Regions from separate parts of the Homo sapiens genome. Here region 2 is linked to region 1. Evidence: fine-mapped expression QTL. A gene starts in region 1. The other region holds a variant in brackets. All regions are shown on one strand. Distances are between the middles of the regions.

The links. PIP is the estimated chance that this variant, and not a neighbour inherited with it, causes the effect.
Region 2: its variant is the best candidate, but not a certain one, in a credible set for the expression of AKAP10 in whole blood (INTERVAL, PIP 0.64).

Annotation. Positions count from the first base shown.
Region 1 is chr17:19,972,154-19,983,812 of GRCh38, forward strand. AKAP10 (A-kinase anchoring protein 10) reads right to left here and starts at 5,675. Exons shown (of 15, transcript NM_007202.4): 1 at 5,439-5,675. The coding sequence starts at 5,526. RefSeq lists a silencer at 5,383-5,572 and an enhancer at 6,045-6,758.
Region 2 is chr17:19,941,824-19,953,482 of GRCh38, forward strand. AKAP10 (A-kinase anchoring protein 10) reads right to left here. Exons shown (of 15, transcript NM_007202.4): 5 at 5,584-5,682; 6 at 3-87. Among named protein-coding and RNA genes, the nearest start is that of AKAP10, 30 kb to the right of the region's middle. The variant A/G (reference allele first, on the strand shown) is at 5,839.

The DNA of each region.
Region 1 (11,659 bases):
ATTCCATGCACTCATATAGCCATGCTTCATATTCTCATCCTTGGTATTTTTAATTTTGCCAACTTACTAGTTTTGAAATGGCATTTGATGTTTTTAATTCATTTCCTTGTTTCCTTTGAGGTTAAACATCCTTTCATGTTTATTGGTCATTTTGGCTTCCTCTTTTGTGAACTGCCTCTTCATGTCCCTTGTCTTTTACTTATTACTTGCAGAAATTCCATACACGTCCTGGATGTAAATCTTCTCTTCTAGAAGTATCTTAGGTATACTTTATTGTATGAAAGTTTTAGGTTTTTTGCTTTGTTTTGTTTTGTTTTTTTGAGACGGAATCTCACTCTGTCGCCCAGGCTGGAGTGCAGTGGCGCGATCTCAGCTCACTGCAAGCTTCGCCTCCCGGGTTCAGGCCATTCTCCTGCCTCAGCCTCCCAAGTAGCTGGGACTACAGGCGCCCGCCACCACGCCCGGCTAATGTTTTGTATTTTTAGTAGAGACGGGGTTTCACCGTGTTAGCCAGGATGGTCTCAATCTCCTGACCTGGTGATCTGCTCACCTCGGCCTCCCAAAGTACTGGTATTACAGGCGTGAGCCACCGCGCTTGGCGAAAGTTTTAAGTTTTAACGTAGTCAAATTTACACAACATGGATTATATTTTCCTGTGTCTTATTTTAAGCAATATCCCTTCCTATCCTGAGATCAGGATTGTTCCCCCTACCTGTTCTTCTACATGACTTCAAGTTTTGTTTTTTTAACATTCCAGGCTCTTATTTACCTGGAATTTGTTTCTGCATCAGGGATTGGCAAACTACAGCCCATGGGCCAAATACAACCCACTACCTTTTGTTTTGTTTTGCTTTAAGACTCCGTCACCCTGGCTGGAGTGCAGTGGTGCTATCTCAGCTCACTGCAACCTCTGCCTCCTGGGTTCAAGTGATTCTTGTGTCTTAGCCTCCAGAGTAGCTGGAATTATAGACACCCACCACCATGCCCAGCTATTTTTTGTATTTTTAGTAGAGACAGGGTTTCACCATGTTGGCCAGGCTGGTCTCAAACTCCTGACCCCAAGTGATCCATCTGCCTTAGCCTCCCAAAGTGCTGGCCATGCCTAAACTGGCCCACTACCAGTTTTTGTAAGTAAAGTTTTATCGTAGCACAGCCATGCCCATTTGTTTACATATTGTCTATGGCTTCAAGGATAAAGGAGAGTGTGACAGAAACCATATGGTCTGGAAAGCCTAAAATATTTATGATTTGGCCCTTAACAGAAAAAGTCTGTTGATCTGAGATATATGAGAGGAGGCAGGAAATTATTTTTTGCCAGATGATGGATAACTAGCATCATTTACAGATCAGTCTATCTTTTCCCAACTAGGAACTCTATATCCGAAATTCCCAATATACCTGGGTCTGTTTCTGTGCATTTGTTTTGAATATATACCATAAGTATCAAGAATGGAATGGAAACCAAATGGAAGCCTATGGCAAAATAATGCTGCCTCCTCAATCTTTATAAAACCAGCTCCCTCTTGACATTTAAGCTAAGATTTGAATGTCATCTCCTTAGAGGACATCCTTAACCACTCAATCTTAACAGAGATGACTGCCTAGACCAGGGTGTTAATTGTCACAGATGGTGAGACGTGGTAGGATTTCGATATGTGTGAGGTAGACCTAACAGATTTGCTGATGGATCAGATATAGAGTAGGAGGAAAGAAGAGGTTCAAAGATGTACTAAAGTTTTGGGCTGAGCAACTAAAAATCCAAAAATGCAGCCGGGAGCGGTGGCTCATGCCTGTAATCCCAGCCTTTGGGAGGCCGAGGCAGGCAGATCACCTGAGGTCAGGAGTACAAAACCAGCCTGACCAACATGGTGAAACCCTGTCTCCAAAAATTAGCTGGTCATGGTGGCGCATGCCTGTAATTCCAGCTACTTGCGAGGCTGAGGCAGGAGAATCACTTGAACCCAGGAGGCGGAGGTTGCAGTGAGCCAAGATCCGCCACTGCACTCCAGCTTGAACGATAAGAGCGAAACTCCATCTCAAAAAAAAGAAAAGAAAAAAAGCCAAAATACTACTTCTTGAGAAAAACTGATGAGCAGGTTTAAAATGACTAAATCTGGCATAAAATTTTAGATATTGTAAGTTGAAGGTATCTACTGGATTAAGCTTGTCCATCCCGCGGCCCAGGATGGCTCTGAATGTGCCCAACACAAATTCGTAAACTTTCTTAAAACATTATAAGTTTTGCGATTTTTTTTTAGCTCATCTGCTATTGTTAGCGTTAGTGTACTCTATGTGTGGCTCAAGACAATTCTTCTTCCAATGTGGCCTAGGGAAGCCAAAAGACTGGACACCTCTATATTGGTCAGGTAGAGATACAAACTGAACCTAAAGTTGGATATACCAGTCTGGATTCAGGGGCAAGGATCCAACGTAGTGATGTAAATTTGGGACTCAATGCATTGATGGTATTTAAAGTCTGAATCGAATCCCTAACAGGACCATCTCCAGCTTCTACTCTTACCACATCCAGCCTCCAAAAAGCACCTAGAATGATTTTTTTTTTTTTTTGAGACAAGATCTCACTGTGTTGCAGTGGTGGGATCATAGCTTACTGCAGCCTCAAACTCCTGGGCTCAAGTGATCTTTCTGCTTCAGCCTCCTGAATAACTCACAACACCCAGCTATTTATTTTTTCTTTTTGTAGAGATGGAGTCTCTCTATGCTGTACAGGTTGATCTCGAACTGGCCTCAGGTGATCCTCCTGTCTCAGCCTCCCAAAGCCCTTGATTACAGGCATGAGCCACCATGCCCTAGAATGATCTTTTTAAGATATAAGTTCAGATCACTCCTCTTTCAAAATTTTAAATTAATATTCTTTCTGTATTTTGTTTGACACATGGTCTCACTTTGTCATCCAGGCTGGAGTGTAGTGACTCAAATATGGCTCATTGTAGCCTCCACCTCCTAGGCTCAAGTGATCCTTCTGCCTCAGCCTCCTGAGTAGCTGGGACCACAGGTGTGCACCATCATACCCAGCAATTTTTTAAATGTTTTGTACAGGTCTCATGTTGCTCAGGCTGGTCTTGAACTCCTGGGTTCAAGCTATATTCCTGCCTCGGCCTCCTAAAATACTGGGATTACAGATATGAACCACCATGTTTGGCATCTCGGCATTAGGAATAAAACCTAACCATGGCCCGTAGAGCTCTCAATCACCCAACACTTGCCTACATCTATGCTCCAGTCACAGTAGCCTTCTTTCCTCTCTTGAAGGGCACCATGCTCTTTCTTGCCTCCTGGCCTTTGAACATGCGATTCCCTGGCCTCTCTAGTTACCTCCTACTGATCCTTCAGCTCTAAGTTTCAAGGTCACCTGCTGAGTCCTCTAACATCTAACCAAAATGCATTTCTCCTCTTAATCTTTCATAACACTTTACTCAACTTGTAAGTATACACCTATACACACACACTTACATGGAGCGAAAGGGAGAAGAGAGAAGATTTGTTTGCTTATTTATTATCTGTCTACCCCAGTAGACAATAAGCTCCATGGGTGCAGGGACATTCTCTGGTTCACTACTCAATCGTGAGGGCCTAGCACAGCACCTGGCAGACTCTGGACACTCAAAAGGTATTTGTTGAATAGAGACAACAGTCTCTTGTGCAATATGCAGTTTGCCTCATTATTCTTAGAATGTTTTCCCCCCTTAAAAAAACAAAAGTTAACCACTTCAATACCAATAAATTAGAGAGCTATTAGGTATACCCCTGCCTTACCAATAAAGCTTCCTCCTACTATTTTACCGGTTTCATTCATTAAGCACTTTCATGCATTCATCACCTGGCATCAGTTACCAAAACCGTGTACCCACTTAAGAAGAAGTATTTAAAGTCATTCAGAGTTCAATGGGCCTTTGGGAATCATCTAATTCTCAGCTGACAGAAGACAGAAAAGTAGGTTAACTGGTCTGCCCCTGTTACAGTTAGCAGCAGAGCTGTCATATGAAACCAAGTTCGATTTTGTTTAGTGCTTTTTCCAAAACCCATTTCTGGCTGGCCGCGGTGGCTCATGCCTGTAATCCTGGCACTTTGGGAGGCCGAGGTGGGAGGCCCACTTGAGGTCAGGGGTTCAAGACCAGCCTAACATGGTGAAGCCCCGTTTCTACTAAAAATACAAAAATTAGCCGGGCATGGTGGGGCATGGGTAATCCCAGCTACTTGGGAGGCTGAGGCAGGAGAATCGATTAAACCTGGGAGACAGAGGTTGCAGTGAGCCGAGACTGAGATCGCGCCATTGCACTCGAGCCTGGGCAACAAGAGCGAAACTCCGTCTCAAAACAAAAAAAGAAAACAAAACCCATTTCTGTCTGGTACTTTTTTTTTGAGACGGAGTTTCGCTCTTTTTGCCCAGGCTGGAGTGCAATGGTGCTATCTCGGCTCACCGCAACCTCCGCCTCCCAGGTTCAAGCGATTCTCCTGCTTCAGCCTCCCAAGTAGCTGGCATTACAGGCATGCGCCACCACCCTGGCTAATTTTGTATTTTTAGTAGACACGGGGTTTCTCCATGTTGGTCAGGCTGGTCTTGAACTCCCGATCTCAGGTGATCCACCCGCCAAGCCTCCCAAAGTGCTGGGATTACAGGCGTGAGCCACCGCGCCCGGCCTCTGTCTGGTACATTTTATCTGAAGCAACAGGAATTGACAGGAAAAATCACTGCTGTCCACAGACCCATACTTGCTCACTTCGGATATGTATTTTTAATGAAGTGCAACAACGTTACCCAGAATCAAAATTAAGCTGTTTCTACGTAAACATTGGGCAGGTAATACAACTGGAAATCAAAAATGTAAGTAGTTCGTTTGTAAGTTAGGGTTCCAGTAGTTAGCAAACTTGCCAAAGTCATCAAAAGTAGTGGTCTTCCTGTTGGGGAACTTTAGCAATAAGTAATTTTATTTTAGTAACAGCAGTAACTACCCCTCCCCCCAAAGAGGAAATTGGAAGACAGCACTGGGTGAAGAAAACAATTTTTTCACGTGTTGCTTTTAGACATAAAACCCTCAACATTTGGAAACTTCAGACTTCCATAATAAGGTTCTAAAGAGATTTCCTTGATCTTGATCCACGGTCCTCAAAGAAACACAAAAAAACTAACCCCCACCTAAGAACTGTTCTTAACCAAACAGGCAGGAACTTCTATGGGCTTTAGCAATCGCTTCTGAACCAGCGCGACAATACTCCTCTGACCTCGCGCAAGAAGGCCACCTTCTCCCTCCCAGAAGAGTCCCGGAGCAGAGCAAGGCACTCAGGGGGCATCTGCGCCGAGGTCGAGGCTCGCTGAAGGCCTTGCTGCCGCCTTGGGGAAAGCCCTCGCAGGCCCACCTGCCCCACCGCCGCCCCTGAGGCCCGGCCTGACTCCCCGCCGGCGCCCCCTCAGCTACCTTTCCGCCGGAAGAAGGACATGGCGGGGCCCGGGTCGGGACGGAGGGTGCGGGGGGACTGGCGCGGGGAGGGCCCGGCTCCCCTCATTCAGCAACCGGCCCGGACTTCCGGGTCCAGAGGGGCCGCTGCACTAGCGCGAAAAGGGACCCTTCTTCCGGGAGTGGGCCCCACCGCCTCCTCGGGATGCCCAGGCAGCTCCAGCCGCCATATTATCAACAAGCCGCCCGCCCGGAGTTCCGGTCCTTCCCCGCGCTAGGCTTCACGGGAGGTCAAGCGCCGGCCCCGCCCCTTTTCCCCATCCCCCTCCCGCGGGTGCAGGGGCGCACGCCCGCATCGCCCACGTGACCCGCGCGTGCTACCCGCGCCTCTTTCCCGGGCCCTGGGTGCCTGGAGCGAGCCACCGTTCCTGCAGCTGTTTTGTGGCGTCTGTCGCCGGCCCCCGGTGGAGCGCTGCAGACCCAGTCTCTGCAAAACTAACTCCCTGGGGCGGGAGCCCTCCCAGCAGCTGGAACGGGGCGGGCCTTAGGTCCCCGGCTTCCGGCCCCTGGGTACCCTTCAAATTGTGCCCTTCTAAAAGGCAGGGTCAACCCTGCCACGCTCCAGCTCGACCCCTCCTGCTCCTCCGTTTGAGTTTTGCTCACAGGCGCTGGCCGGCACGAGCAGCTTCACCCTGCACCCCAGTCCCTGCTTCCTCAGGAGAACCCGCCACGGCCTGCGGGTTCGAGGCGATGCAGAACCCTGATTAGGAAAAGGCACAACCTGCCGCATGCGGAACCAGCAGCTCCCTGGATCATTAGCGAATGAAAAGGGGAAGCGGGCTTATTTCGGAGTGCAGTCCCTGCGAATGCTCAACTTTGTAAGGGACTGCAACATAAAAGCCTCGCCAGTATTTAAAAGCTAGCTCCAGTGAATCATCCTTGCTCAAATGCCATTTTCCTGTGAATCTTCTGACCCTCTACTCCCAAAGCAAAATCAATCAAGCCTCCCTGTCTTTGGTGCTTCTTAACACCCGGCGAGTGCGCTCAGCGGCTGAGGTTGTAACTGCTCCCTGGGGTTGGGGTTGGGGAGGGCAGGAAGGTAATAGTAACTCAATAAATGTTCGCTGGGGTTTTTAAACCAATGAAGTTTATCATGTGACGGATGGGGAAACAGGCCCAGAAGAGACAACTAGCCCAAGATTGTTCAGAATGTTAGAAATACCAAAATTGTTAGAAATAGATAATCGGTGCCACGAAGAAAAGTCAGCACGGAGACAAAAGATCTCCAGCAAGGCAATCTTTACTTTCTGCAGAAAGGGTGCTCAATCGCAGATGGAACGATGTCGAGAGCACACCTGAACAAAGGAAAAGCAAACATATTTATCCCTTACGCATTTGGGTCGTCCTCACTGCTATGTCCTGCATCCATTGGCTGGAGCGGGACCTCACACTCTTAAACTGATAGCCGATTTGCTAATAGCCTAAAACTTTCTAAATAGGTAAGTGCAAGGAAGAACGAAGAAGGAGAGGAAGTTGCTTACCGAAAGGTTTAAGGAAGCAATAACATTTCCAAATAAGGAAGGGGCATAGGCTGTGAACTGGAACGTGCCTGTGAGCATGTCCAACAGTTACATAGGATAGGGCTTAACAAAGAGTTATTAGCACAAAGCAAGGAGGCTTGAAGAAAGTTAGTCTTTAAAATAAACTATTACTTCTAACACTTATGATGTATTCTTTAACAAGAAGGGGAACTTTGAAGAGGAAACTTTTTACTTTCTACAAGAATGTCCAAGTTTAAGACTATAACTAGAACCCGAAATAGGCAAATCCCTTAACCTGCTCTAATAATAATATGGTCTTTTCACTATATTGTTAGAGCAGGTTAAAAGATTTACTTATTTCATTTCTGGCCAGATGCAGTGGCTTATGCCTGTAATCCCAACACTTTGAGAGGCTGAGGCAGTCAGATCACCTGAGGTCAGGAGTTAGACCAGCCTGGCCAAGATGGCGAAACCCCGTCTCTACTAAAAATACAAAAATTAACTGGGCGTCGTGGCATGCCTGTAGTCCCAGCTAATCAGGAGGCTGAGGCAGGAGAATCTCGAACACGGGAGGTGGAGGTTGCAGTGAGCCAAGATCGCGCCACTGCACTCCAGCCTGGGCGAGAGGAAGACTCCTTAAAAAAAAAAAAAAAAAAGATGTGCCTATTTCGTTTCAGAGCATGGCATGTTTGCAAGTGCATGAAAGGTAACCAAAACTGACATGGAAATTTACTATGCGACGGTACTGTGCTAAACCCTCCAGATGAGTAATAGTCCTTGGAGTCAGTCCTGGTATCTGGAAAACTAGGCACTGAAAAATAAAGTCAACTGCTCAAGGTCACACGCTAACTAGGGATGAAGCCTGGATTTCAAGGTGAAGCCTTTCTCCAGTTAAGGACAGCGCGTCCAGGCGCACTGGACGGAAGCAGCGCTGGCAGAGGCTCCGGACGTCCGGAGTGAGCTGGCGCCGAATGGACGCGGTCTGGCCGCTTCCTCCTGGCCTCGGCCGGGCCTGCACCGGGAGGCTGAGCGGCGCCCCACCAGGGATCCGAGATGCCCTCGGGAGCCAATCTGTGTTCTTGGCGGACCACACCCCGCTGTCTGTAGCCAATAAAACCTTGGATCGTGCATCCCACCCCCACCAAAGGGAGATTGGCTGAAGCCAAGGACCCGGGCGCGGTCTACGTGGGATTTCTCTGCAGGCTGAGGGGACAAGTGGCTGTGTCTACCAGGGGCCCAAGTACAGGGCATCAGCAAGAAAGCGCAGCGCCCTTCTCCTGTTCCCTTCCAGCGTGCAGAACCTCGCAGGGGCTATTTTGTATGTGTTGTGTGGTTAGTTGGATGGGGCGGGAGGGACGTAGGGGAGGGGAGAGTGCGAGAAATCCCCTGAATGTCTCTGGCACGGGAGCAGATCCCACAGAGTTGGAGGCGGAGGACTCTAAGTTCCTCTAAATCTCCTCTAAGCCTTCCTCATTCTCTCCAGCTAAGCAGTCTGTGCAGAAGCAGTGCCTCACCTCGACTTCCAGTGTGATTTGCTGCCTTTGAGCCCTGCCCACCAGAAATTCTGAAGTCGCCGTAATCCCCGACAGCTGCATACACCTCAGTCATGATAATGGCCGTCATTATTTATGAAGTACTTATTATGCGCCCTCCTTGTATTAAGTGCTTTACAATTACTAGCTCACTTAATCCATAATTCCTGCCCTTCCCCGAAAAGAGACCCTGTGAGATGGCTGCCATCGCAACCCCCAATTTACAGATGTGGCCCTGAGGATCGGGGTAACTTATGTAGGATCATGAGGCTGTTAAGAGGTAGAGACAGGATTTCAATCGCTGTCAATCAGACTCCAAAGCCATTTGCTTATACCACTTTCTCCTATCTTTCTCTCCACCCACACATTTATCCAGGGTCCCAAAATGGGATGTCTGTCGGGCAGGTATATGGGGGTGAATGATATCTGGCAGTACATATTCTTCGGGTACCTTCTGAATCATCACCCATTAAAATGTTTATATGCTTAGGGAAGCTTGCTGCTAAGAGTATTGTCATTTAATCTTTTGAAATTTGATGATCCACATATGAGTAAAGTTAAAAGAAGAATTTAAAAATAACAAGAATATTACATTAGGCTGAATACGCAGCTGTGGCAAACTAATACCCTGCATTGTATTTCTGAATTAACTTCATAAAGTCATTTTAGTTTACATGTAAGATAAAATTAATTTTTATCAGGAGTTCCTTTAATTATGCTCCTAATTTTTGGGAACCGTCACAGTGTTGTTTTGTTTTATGTGTTTTTTTTCTTTTTTTTTTTTAGACGGAGTTTCGCTCTTGTTGCCCAGGCTGGAGTGCAATGGCGCGATATCGGCTCACTGCAACCTCCACCTCCCGGGTTCAAGTGATTCTCCTGCCACAGCCTCCCGAAGAGCTGGGATTACAGGCATGCACCACCACGACCGGCTAATTTTGTATTTTTAGTAAAGATGGGGTTTCACCATGTTGGTCAGGCTGGTCTTGAACTCCTGACCTCAGGTGATCCGCCTGCCTCAGCCTCCCAAAGTGCTGGGATTATAGGCGGGAGCCACCATGCCCGGCCTCGTCACAGTCTTTTTATACCAGTTGTATTAATTACAACAAATCAGTGAGGTAAAATCAGTAAGTTAATTATCACAAATCCAGTGAATGGTTTAATCTAACATTGTTTAAAAATCAATGAATAGTATTCTACAACAAACATTCTAACAAATATAGTTTATCAAACATTCATAACTTTTTTTTTCGAGACAGATTCTCATCTCACTCTGTCGCCCAGGCCAGACTGCAGTGGTGGGATCTCAGCTCACTGCAACCTCCACCTCCTGGATTCAAGCAATTCTCCTGCCTCAGCCTCCTGACTACAAATGTGTGCCACCATGCCTGGTAATTTTTGTATTTTTAGTAGAGACGGGGTTTCACCATATTGGCCAGGCTGGTCTTGAACTCCTGAGCTTAGGTGATCCACCTGCCTCAGCCTCTCAAAGTGTTGGGATTACAGGCATGAGTCACTGCACCCGGCCCTGGTTTTAGTTTTAATCAAATCAATTGTACCGAAAGGGGAGAAGAGAGAATTTAGCAAGGAAATATTTGAAAAGCTAACGGCTGACAATTTTCCTGTGGTGATAACAGAAACCAACACACTAATTCAAGAATCACTATGAACTGCAAACAAAAGAAATACAAAGAAATCTGCACACAGATTATTAATAACAAAACTTCAGGAAATAAAAATGAAGAAAAATTGTTAAAAATTGCTAGGGGTAGGGGAAGCAGATTACCTTCAAAGGAGTGCTACTTGGCCGGGTGCGGTGGCTCATGCCTGTAATCTTTGGGAGGCTGGGGCAGGCAGATCACTTGAGGCCAGGAGTTCGAGACCAGCCTGTCTAACATGGTGAAACCCCATCTCTACTGAAAATACAAAAATTAGCCGGGCGTGATGGTACGCACCTGTAATCCCAGCTATTTGGCAGGCTGAGGCAGGAGGTGGAGGTTGCACTGAGCTGAGATCACGCCACTGTACACCAGCCTAGATGACAGAGTAAGACTCCGTCTAAAAAAAAAAAAAAAAGAGGCTGGGCGCGGTGGCTCACGCCTATAATCCCAGCACTTTGGGAGGCCGAGGCGGACAGATCACGAGGTCAGGAGATCGAGACCATCCTGGCTAACACGGTGAAACCCCAACTCTACGAAAAATACAAAAAAATCAGCCGGGCGTGGTGGCGGGCGCCTTTAGTCCCAGCTACTCCGGAGGCTGAGGCAGGAGAATGGCGTGAACCCGGGAGGCAGAGCTTGCAGTGAGCCAAGATCACGCCACTGCACTCCAGCCTGGGCGACAGGGCAAGACTCTGTCTCAAAAAAAAAAAAAAAAAAAAGAGTGCCAAGTAAACAGCTGATTTTTTAAACAGTTACAGTGGATGCCAGAAGATTCATATTAAATATTCAATATGCTATAAAAAGTAACTGCTGGCTAGTCATGGCCCAGCACTTTGTAAGGCCAAGGTGGGTGGATTGCTAGAGCTCAGGAGTTAGAGACCAGCCTGGGAAATGTGGCAAAGCCTCATCTCTACAAAAAATAGAAAAATTAGTTGGGTATGGTGGCATGCATCTGTAGTCCCAGCTACTAGGGAGGCTGAGGTGGGAAGATCACCTGAGCCCTAGGAGGTCAAGTCTGCAGTGAACCGAGATCACATTACTACACCCCAGCATAGGCAACAGAGTGAGACCCTGTCTCAAAATAATAATAATAATGATAATAACTATCAACCAACAATTTTATATCCATCAAAAATATATTTCAAAGATGACACAAAATAAGATTTCAGACAAAAACGGAAAAAATTGGCTGTGCGTGGTGGCTCATGCTTGTAATCCCAGCACTTTGGGAGGCCAAGGTGGGTGGATCACCTGAGGTCAGGAGTTCGAGACCAGCCTGGCCAACACGGTGAACCCCCATTTCTACTAAAAATACAAAAATTAGCCGCGTGTGGTGGTGGGTGCCTGTAATCTCTCAGCTACTTGGGAGGCTGAGGCAGGAGAATTGCTGGAATCCGGGAGGTGGAGGTTGCAGTGAGCTGAGATCGTGCTATTGCACTCCAGCCCAAGCTGACAACAGCGAGACTCAGTCTCAAAAAAAAGAAAAAAATTGTCACCAGCAGACCTCACTA
Region 2 (11,659 bases), 30 kb before region 1:
ACTCTTGCTCCATTGCACTAAAGACTATGGACTGTGCCAAAACGAAACAGTTGGGATCCACCTGTCCATCTTCTCCACAAATCCTTGCTGCAAAAGAAGTTGTAAATAATTAAATTGCCACTAAATTCAAACTATGTATACACACTTGTGAATCAACTTGGGAGTTAACAGCACAGGCATATAAATTAAGAGGTTTTAAATAGAACTAAAAGAAAATACAGGTAACACTTGATCTTAAAATAGAAAGTCTTTTGAAGTACATATGCAAAAGCAGAAATCAAAAGATTTAACAACATAAAATTTAATTCCTATACATAGAAACCCTCCAAAAACAAAATACAAAGGCAAACAAACAGAAAAAAGATTTGCAGCATGCATGACAGTTAAAAGGTTACTATCATTAAAATACCAAGAGCTCTTATAAACTACTAAGAAATGTTCCAAAAGAAAAATGAGCAAAGGACATGACAATCCACAAAGGAACAAACATAAAATGACCAACGTGAAAAGACATACATACTCACTAGTAATCAAATAGATTAGAATAAGGAGGCACTACACCTTTTATCTAGTAAACTGGCCCAACATTGTTTTTAATAATATGTATACTTGAGCAAGGGCACAAGAAAACTAACACTAGTGTTAGTGGGGATACAAACACCTTTTTCTGAAGGCAATTTGGCAGTTTCTAGCATAACTTTAAAAATGAACATACCCTTTCAATGAGCAATTCTATTTCTGGGATTGTAACTTAAAAAATTATGGATTTGTGAAGTTATCTGTAAAAAAGTTTATTAAAATGTTATTGGTAGAAATTTTAAAACATGAAATGTGCTAAAATAAGGAACTGCTAAAATAAACTGCAGCGAAACAATTAGCTATTTAGCTAGCTGTTAAACATGGCTGGAAAAACCATATAACATGATGCCTAGTCTCACTTTGTGTTCATGACTTTAGTGGGACCTTCATGAAACCAAGGGATCATACTAGTGTCCTGGTCTGTTTACATTCACTTTCCTAGACAATACAAATCTGTGATACTGTGAAATATGTTATTTAGTCTTTGCCCAGTTTTTTTTTTTTCCTTTTTCTTCTGAGACAAGGTCTCACTTTGTCACCCAAGCCGGAGTCAGTGGCACGATCATGGCTCACTGCTGCCTTCAACTCCAGGGCTCAGTGATCCTCAGCCTTCTGAGTAGCTGAGACTACAGACAAGAGCTATTACGCCTGGCCAATTTTTAAATTTTTTGTAAGGGGGTCTCACTATGTTGACCAGGCTGGTTTTGATCTCATGGCCTGAAACGATCCTCCTGCCTCAGCCTCCCAAAGTGCTGGGATTACAGGCCTGAGACATTGCAACTGGCCTTTAGCCAGTTTCTTAGCATACAGCGCCTAAAATTCATGGAATCTCTGGATTCTTTTGAAGGCTAATGAGATGACTTGTGGCTGTGGCCTCTAAAGAGCTTTAGGATGAGGGCTAATCACCAGAAAGACCAAGGCAGAATTACACGTTTGGGACTTTCAGCCCTACCCACCAACCTCCCGGGATGAGGGGGCTGAAGGTTGAGCTGATCACCAATAGCCAATGATCAATCATGCCTATATAATGAAGTCTCCACAAAAAACCCAAAAGGACAGAATGGGGAGGGGGGCTTCTGAATAGCTAAATCTGTAGAGGTTCTTGGAGGGTGGCATGACCTGGAGAGTGCATGGAAGCTCTGTGCCCCTCTCCCATACCTTGCCCATGCATCTCTTCCATCTGCCTGTTCAATCTGTATCCTTTGTAATATCCTTTATAATAAATGGGTAAATATATGTAAAGCATTTCCCTGAGTTCTGAGAGCTGCTCTAGCAAATTTATTGAACCCAAGGAGGGGACTGTGGGAACTCCAATTTATAGAAGGTCAGTCAGAAGCACAGGCCACAACTTGTACTTGAGACTGGCATCTGAAGTGGAGGCAGTCTTGTGGGACAGAGTCCTCAATCTGTGGGATCTGATGCTATCTCCAGGTAAACAGTGTGAGAACTGAACTGACTTAGAGGACACCCAGTTGGTGTTCACTGAACAATCATCTGCAGAATTGGTAGCTGACAGGGAAAAAACCCCACACAACTAGAGTCATGGAAGGGTTCTGTTTTGTGAGAGTTCAGAAGGAGAAACTGAGTTTTTTTTTTTTCTACAGTACATCTCCTTTCTCAAATATTTAACACCTCTTCTATTCTCTTTGCTGAGGACTTTGCTTCCTGCTTCCTTGAGAATATAGAAGCAATCAGAAAATTATTTCCATCATCTCTCACATCTTTCAACTCACCTGCATCTCTACCCGTGTACTGCATTCTTTCCTGTGACTCTAGATAAATTGTCCTTGCTCCCATCTAAGCAATCTTCTATGTGAGCACTGGAATTCATCCCTTCTGCCTCCAGACTTCTTTCCTGTAACAACTGTCCCCTCTCCTACATCAACTTCTCCTTCACTACTGCCTCATTCCTATCAGCTGTGTGGACTGCATGTTTATATATATACCTGTTTGTATGCTATAACACACTTTATATGCTTATATATATGCCTGTAACCTCAGCACTTTGGGAGGCCAAGGTGAGTAGATCATGAGGTCAGGAGATGGAGACCATCCTGGCCAACACGGTGAAACCCCGTTTCTACTAAAATACAAAAAAAAAAATTAGCCAGGCGTGGTGGCGAGCGCCTGTAGTCCCAGCTACTTGGGAGGCTGAGGCAGGGGAATCGCTTGAACCCAGGAGGCGGAGGTTGCCGTGAGCCAAGATCACGCCACTGCACTCCAGCCTGGCGAGAGTGAGACTCCGTCTCAAAAACAAACAAACAAACAAACAAAAAATGCAGTCATGCTTTATTCCTTTTTTTCCCTCTCATACCACTCACTTCCAAACCATCAGCAAATTCTGTCAGCTGTACCTTCAAAGTTTTTAAAAATTCTACCACTTCAAACATTTGTGGAAGATGAAGGAGGTAGTGCAAGTATAGATTCTGGATCACTCTAAATCCTCACATAAAAACAGTAATTAGTTAGCAACACCAAAAATCCAAGGATTACATTTAAAACAAGACTATGCAAAGTGGGTACACAGTAAGAGCTAAAGTGAAGGCTCCTTTGAACAAAACTCACTTGAAGGACAGCTATATTAAAATAGTCCAACTGCAAGAGGAGACAAATAATTTGGACAGGATTAAGAATGGGGCTCAAGGAGGAAAAATGACTTGCCTAAAGCCACACAGGTAATTAACATCCTAAAATATATAATGATAGACACTGGGATAGAGGTTTTCTCAAATTCTTTGATCACAAAATGTTATCAACTTGATCCTTCAGAAGACTTTTCCTTCATGGGATTACATCATCATTAATTTGATTAAGCTTAAGTAAAAGAAAGAGAGTTGCAGTGTGGTTTCATTTTAAGTGTTTTATTTGACTTGAAACTGCTTCCTTTTTATCCACACGCCAGTCAGGCTATTAACTGGTACAGACTCCCCTCAAAAAAAAATCACTAGCCAACCAATTCTTCAAACAGGCAAACTCTAATCAGTCAGAACATCCCTGTTGTATTACTAGGAAAAGCTGGTCTAGGGATGATGATAGTAGCAAATTCCCACATAAAAATAGAGCAACAACACAGAAAACCTCAAATCTCATGACAACATCTGTCAGCAAAACTCAGTGAAACAGTACCCCTTAAATACAAGCAGATAGGGATAAGCCACCAACAGCCACCAGGCCTATGTTATAGCCGTTATAGGTATCTGTGTGGGAGAAAGAAAAGGAAAATGGAGCCAACATGACATGGACCCCAGAATAGCTAACTGGAAGGTACAGTGGGCCAATTTAAGAAACACAGCTGAGACTAACAGGGGTCTTGCTGTCCCCAGCAGTGAGTGAGTGCAAAGCACCCACACTAAGGATTAAAGAAGCCCAACATCGGGACAGATCTGCTAAAAGTGCAAGAACATGTCTTATTTCATAAATCACAAATACTAACTTTTTTGAAGAATAAAAATACATAATATTAGGACTTATGAGAATGTAATATTTATTGAATGAATAAATAACCTCTTTTATCTGTGAATATACGTTCACCTAAGGTCTTCCTGATAAAACACAGTAAAAGCTTTCAAACTATTTTGCTATAACCTATAAGAAATATATTTGTTGAATCAGCATACACATACATACATGTATATATAATGAAAACATTTTTCTGAAATGTTTGTCCTTACTACTCTGAGATACTTTGATTTTTTTATTCTAGTATATATATATATACACACACTAATATGTATATTATATATTAGTATATATACTAATATATAATATATACTATATATGCATATATACTAATACATATATTTTATATATATATATATTTTATATATATATATATTATATATATATATATATATATATATATATATATATATATTTTTTTTTTTTTTTTTTTTTTTTGGCAGGGGGTGAGGGCATAAGAGAAGGCTGGTCCCAACCTACAGTATGAAAAACACTGCCACAGCACAGCAGTTAAGGTATGTGAGGGTCTAGTTTCAAATCCTGACTCTGCCATATCTGAGCTGTTACCCTGGACAAAGCACTTAACTTCTCTGTGCTTCAGTTTCTTCATCTATAAAATAACTGTATTTATCCCACAAAGTTCTTTAGAAGTTAAAATGAGTCTATCCATAAAAAGTGCTTGGAATATTGTCTGGGACACAGTGAGTGTTTAATAAATGTGTACTATTTATTGATCTTGCTGTCATTGTTATTCAGGTTAAAGCCTAAGAATTTGGGTCCAACATATAAGAAAAACTTTTTTTTTTTTTTTTTTTTTAAGGTTAGCAAATTGTCTTTATTCAGAAGAATAAAGTTACGTGAAACTGGGACTGGACATGAGGCTGCCCTCCTCCTTGCACCTCCAGCTGTGCCAAATGACACAGAAATGACACTGTGTGTGGCACAATCAACTGGCAAAAAAAGGCAAGTCACAGGCCATGTGATGGCTCTGGCTAATGCAGGTAGACATCCAGGGTGCCCAGGGACGTCAGGCCCACTGAGAAGTGGGATGAAGCCCTGAGACGGAGAGGCCACCACTGAGACACCTGTCTGGCCATCCAGTTGCCCACTGGTCGTGAGACTCTTGGGCTGCAGCCCTGATGCCTAGAGACTTTGGTACCGGCTTTTAGCCTCACTGGACTTCCAACCCCAGAAGTTTCTGTCCCGCCCACTTCGTGCACTGGTGCGGGGCTGCCGGCCAGTCCATCCGGTGGTCTGTGCCGGTTAGCGTAGCCGCCCGCCGGCCCGGCTGCTCAGCAGCGGGCAGGCCTGAGCACCCGCTACACTGCAGCCCATCTGGCCCAGGCAAAGACCCTCGCACCGAATGCAGCCGAGAAACTTTTAAAGTGAGCTATAATCCGATATAAAAAATACTCAGAAAACAAATTAGGAAGGGAACTGCTAAATTCCATGTTAAGAAAAAATTATCTTAGTCAATAACGAAAATTGTCAGTTCTGTGCATTTTTTGTCATTTTTTTTTTGCCATAGTTTCAAGCACTGCTTACCTATGATGTCATTTCTCATTGCTTCTGTAATTGGTATTGGTTTAGCAGCATCTGGAGATATATATTTGGTAAAAGTATTCACTGCATCTTGTTCTATACCTGCAAGGGAAGAAGAGAACTTCAAAAACCAAAAAGCAACTTGGACTCCAGTAATGAATTATATTCATGAATAGCAGGGCTTAGATCACTGTGAGTTCCTATTGCAAAATAAACTTCCATCACAAAGGTGCTTTTTCATTGTTTGGTTTGTGGAAG[A/G]GGAGAGTTACATGGGGGTGTTCAAAGCTATGGAAAATGCATATGATGAAAAAACTATGCATGAATTTCAAAGTACTTTTACACCAAAATAAACTCATATTAACCTGTTATAACGTATCTGAACAGGATCTACTCTGAGGCACTAAGAAGGAGAAAACATCAGTTTGAAGACAGCCCCTATTGGAGCAACATGAATTCTGCTAAAATGGAAGAATAAACATCAAATTTATGGTGAAGCTTGTGTGGATGAAAGATAAAATTATTGATGCTTTACCAAAAGTTTATGGGGACAATGCCTCAAAGGACAGAGTGAGACTCCGTCTCAAAAAAAAAAAAAAAGTCAAGTATTAATAATTATGACAGAAACCACCAAAGGCGGGTGTTAAAGTGTTATTTTCCTAATGTGCTTGCTAAAGGGAAAACAGCAAATTAATATAGAGAATATCATCCGTTGATTTGATATGAAATCCTAATAAGTATGTCAAGATGAAATAAGCACACTCTTCTGTCTCTCCCATGGAATGCAACTCAAAACAATGGACAAATGCATCCAAGGACTTGGAAGCAGGTGGACTGAGAAAAGTAATCAGAACTTGCAGTACCTCCGTACTCCTGACAAGTTTGTCCAGCACCTCCTGGCCTGGACTCAAAAGCTGAAACTGCACACCAGATGCACAAAGAAGAAGTTCCAAGACAGGCCCTCTATTTCTGGTCTGAGGAACAGGAAAGGGGGCTCTCACGGATCAAAGAGAGTGGAGGAAATCCCCTGGGTTGTTTTGTTTTGTTCCTTTCTCTCCTTCGACTCCCAGGCAGCATCAGAGCAGCCACAGCAGCAATGACAGCAGCTCCAAGAATCCTACTTTCTGACAAGAGAAACTGCAGTCCCAAGAAGAAGAAGTCGTGGCCACAGAGGTTGACATAGCTACAGGAAGTGTGCTGAAGTATAGGGAATCTAAAGCCCTGACTTTCTAGCCAGACAACAGGAAAGGGATAAAGGGAGGTTCTTAGAAGGCAGAACGTGTCAGGGACATCACAGAAAAGAAGGAGCCCATGAAAACGTCGAGTTGTATGTGCACTCCCGGGGCCACTCGTGAGCTGGGTGTGCATGGCCCTGCTTCTAAAAGTGTACAAAGGCTTTGGGACCTGACCATTGGCCAGGTCCCAGACTGGACACAGAAAGGCACATAAGCAGATAAGATACAAAACTGAACTGATGATGGAACCAGAGCCGACAGAATGCTGCTTAGAATTTGTGGACTGAACCTAACTAGGTCAACTGCTTGTTAAAGCAAAAACTTCAATATTTTCCACAGGATTTAAACAAGATTCAGAATCATGTAACGTAAGTCAAACTGTCCAAGATACAATCCAAAATTAATTGTCATATAAAGAACCAGAAAATCCCATTATCTCACAAGAGAAAAGACAATCAAGAGGACACATATGCTGGGATGATAAAACAAATTTTAAGTAGCTACTAAAACCATGCTCTAAGAAATAAGATCACTCCTGAAACAAATAAGAGTTTCAGGAGCAAAGTATAAGACATACACAAAAAAAGAAAATTTTAGAACTAAAAAACATAATAAACAAAATTTAAAATTCACTACAAAGACTCAATAACAGAATGGAAATAACGGGAAAGAACCAGTGAATTTGAAGACAGATGAATAGAAATTTTCGAAGCTGAACAACAGGAAAAAAAAATTTAAAGAAGTAAGGAAAGCCTCAGGAACCTGCCAAACAATAACAAAACTAACATTTGGGTTACTAAAATCCTAGAAGGAAAAGAGAAAAAGTGCAATGTCAAAAAAATATTTAAAGACTTAGCCGGGCGCGGTGGCTCACGCCTGTAATCCCAGCACTTTGGGAGGCTGAGGAGAGCGAATCACAAGGTCAAGAAATCGAGACCATCCTGGCCAACACAGTGAAACCGTCTCTACTAAAAATACAAAAATTAGCTGGGCATGGTGGCGCGCACCTGTAATCCCAGCTACTCAGTAGGCTGAGGCAGGAGAAACACTTGAACCCAGGAGGCGGAGGTTGCAGTGAGCCAAGATCACGCCACTGCACTCCAGCCTGGTAACAGAAAGAGAGACTCTGTCTCAAAAAAAAAAGAGAAAAAAAAAAAAAAACGGTGTTATTAAATCTTTATTACATTTCTTTTCTCTCTCTTTTTTAACCTCATCCCTAGTTCTATTTTTATGGTGGTTAAGTTTTCTACATTCCACTTGAAGTTACAAAATATTAAATGTGAGTACACTGTGAAAAGTATGTATATTGTAATTCCTAGAGAAGCCACTAAAAAGCCTACATAAAAAGATACAATCAAGAACTCAATATATAAATTCTAGAAAAAGGCAGGGCATGGTGGCTCACGCCTGTAATCCCAGCACTTTGGGAGGCCGAGGCAGGTGGATCACTTGAGGTCAAGAGTTCAAGACCAGCCTGGCCAATATGGTGAAACCCTGTCTCTACTAAAAATACAAAAAAATTAGCTGGGTGTAGTGGCACATGCCTGCAGTCCCAGCTACTTGGGAGCTGTGGCAGGAGAATCACTCAAAAAAATAAATAAATAAGTAAGATAAATAAATTTAAGGAAAAATTCAAATAATCCAAAAGAAAGCAAAAAAGGGGCTCTCCCTCGTCTCCCTCTCCCTCTCCCCGGTCTCCCTCTGATGCCACCAAAGTTGTGAAAGCCGAGGCTGGACTGTACTGCCGCCATCTCGGCTCACTGCAACCTCCCTGCCTGATTCTCCTGCCTCAGCCTGCAGAGTGCCTGGGATTGCAGGCGCACGCCGCCACACCTGACTGGTTTTTGCATTTTTTGGTGGAGACGGGGTTTCGCTGTGTTGGCCGGGCTGGTCTCCAGCTCCTGACCGCGAGTGATCTGCCTGCCTCGGCCTCCCGAGGTGCCAGGATTGCAGACGGAGTCTCGCTCACTCAATGCTCAATGTTGCCCAGGCTGGAGTGCAGTGGCGTGATCTCAGCTCCCTACAACCTCCACTTCCCAGCCGCCTGCCTTGGCCTCCCAAAGTGCCGAGATTGCAGCCTCTGCCCGGCCGCCACCCCGTCCGGGAAGTGAGGAGCGTCTCTGCCTAGCCGCCCATCGTCTGGGATGTGAGGAGCCCCTCTGACCGGCCGCCCCGTCTGGGAAGTGAGGAGCACCTCTTCCCGGCTGCCATCCCGTCTAGGAAGTGAGGAGTGTCTCTGCCCGGCAGCCCATCGTCTGAGATGTGGGGACCACCTCTGCCCCGCCGCCCCGTCTGGGATGGGAGGAGCGCCTCTGCCCGGCCGCGACCCCGTCTGGGAACTGAGGAGTGTCTCTGCCCGACCGCCACCCCATCTGGGAGGTGAGGAGCGTCTCTGCCCGGCCGCCCCGTCTGAGAAGTGAGGAGCCCCTCCGCCCGGCAGCCGCCCGGTCTGCGAAGTGAGGAGCCCCTCAGCCCGGCAGCCGCCCCGTCCGGGAGGGAGGTGGGGGGCAGCCCCCGCCCGGCCAGCCGCCCCATCTGGGAGGGAGGTGGGGGGTCAGCCCCCGCCCGGCCAGCCGCCCCGTCCGGGAGGGAGGTGGGGGGTCAGCCCCCGCCCGGCCAGCCGCCCCATCCGGGAGGGAGGTGGGGGGCGCCTCCGCCCGGCCACTGCCCCGTCTGGGAGGTGGGGGGCGCCTCTGCCCGGCTGCCCCATCTGGGAAGTGAGGAGCCCCTCTGCCCAGCTGCCACCCCGTCTGGGAGGTGTACCCAACAGCTCATTGAGAACGGGCCATGATGACGATGGCAGTTTTGTCGAATAGAAAAGGGGGAAATGTGGGGAAAAGAAAGAGAGATCAGATTGTTACTGTGTCTGTGTAGAAAGAAGTAGACATGGGAGACTCCATTTTGTTCTGTACTAAGAAAAATTCTTCTGCCTTGGGATGCTGTTAATCTATAACCTTACCCCCAACCCCCTGCTCTCTGAAACATGTGCTATTACCACTCAGGGTTAAATGGATTAAGGGTGGTGCAAGATGTGCTTTGTTAAACAGATGCTTGAAGGCAGCATGCTCGTTAAGAGTCATCACCACTCCCTAATCTCAAGTACCCAGGGACACAAACACTGCAGAAGGCCGCAGGGTCCTCTGTCTAGGAAAACCAGAGACCTTGTTCACATGTTTATCTGCTGACCTTCCCTCAACTATTGTCCTATGACCCTGCCAAATCCCCCTCTCCAAGAAACACCCAAGAATGATCAACAAATACTAAAAAAAAATAAGAATTAAAAAAAAAAAAAAAGCAAAAAAGGGGAAATCAAAGAGGGAGAAACAGAAAAACATATACTAAACTGGTAATCTAAATCCAAAGATATTAATATTATTATGAGTAATATAATTATATTAATACCAATAATTATATTTACACATTATAAATACCCCAGTGCAACAGTTACATTTAATGTAAATAATTATACTAAAATTTATATTAAAATAATTAAATTTACCAACAAAAACCCTGTATTGTGAGAAAAGATTAAAAATAACATGACTCAGCCGGGTGCAGTGGCTCACGCCTGTAATCCCAGCACTTTGGGAGGCCAAAGCAGGTGGATCACCTGAGGTCAGGAGTTCAAGACGAGCCTGGCTAACATGGTGAAAATCCGTTTCTACTAAAAATACAAAAAATCAGCCAGGCATGGTGCGCGTGCCTGTAATCCCAGCTACTTGGGAGGCTGAGGCAGGAGAATCACTGCAACCCAGGAGGTGGAGGTTGTGGTAAGCCAGGATTGCACCACTGCACTCCAGCTTGGGCAACAAGAGCAAAACTCTGTCTCAATAAATAAATAAATAAATAAATAAATAAATAAATAAATAACACTACCCAACTATATGCTGCCTACAAGAAGCCCCCTTTAAATAGAATTATAAAGGTAGATCAAAAGTAAAAAAATGGAAAAAGATATGCCATGCAAGCACTAATCAAATGAAAGCTGCAGTGTCTATATAAATTGGACAACAGATATTTCTGATCTTAGAACAAGGAAAATTACCATAAAGAGGGAATTACATAATGATAAAACAGGCAATTCACCCAGAAGATATCATCCTGAATGTGTACACACCTAACAACAGAGCCTCAAAATACATGAAGCAAAACCAGATAGAGCTGAAAGTAAAATTGGAAAAAAAAATTGTAGTTGGAAAGTTCAACACTCTTCTGAGTAATAAAGTGATATAACTGCATACAAAGTATCAGCAAGAATAAAGAAAAACTGAACACCATCATTAACCAACTAAATCAACTTGACATTTATAGAAAACTGTCCAAAAACAGAATGTACAATCTTTATACTGTATGTGGTATATTCACATTTTAAAAAATTTTTTAATGTTATTTTTAAAAATTAATAAATGAAATCATTCAAAATATATTCTCTGACCATAATATAATGAAATGAGAAATAAATGGTAGAAAAATAACAGGAAAAAAGTCTCCAATTGCTTGCAAACTAAATAACATATTTCTAAATAATTCATTGGTAAAAGAATAAGATTCAAGGGAAATTAGAACATTTCATTTGTGCTCAGTTCAAAATACCAGAATTTGTGGGGGTGTAACTAAAGCAGTGGTTAGAAGGAAATTTACAGTATTAAATGCTTATCTTAGAAAAGAAAGGTCTCAAACCAGAAATCTAAGTTTCTACTTTAAGCAACTTGGAGAAAAAAAAAAGAGTAAAATAAACCCAAAGCAAGCAGAAATAATAGAAAAGAAATAATAAAGAGCAGAAAATCAATAAAATTGAAAACAAAACAACAGAAAAATCAAAACAAAAGCTAGTTCTTTGAAAAGAC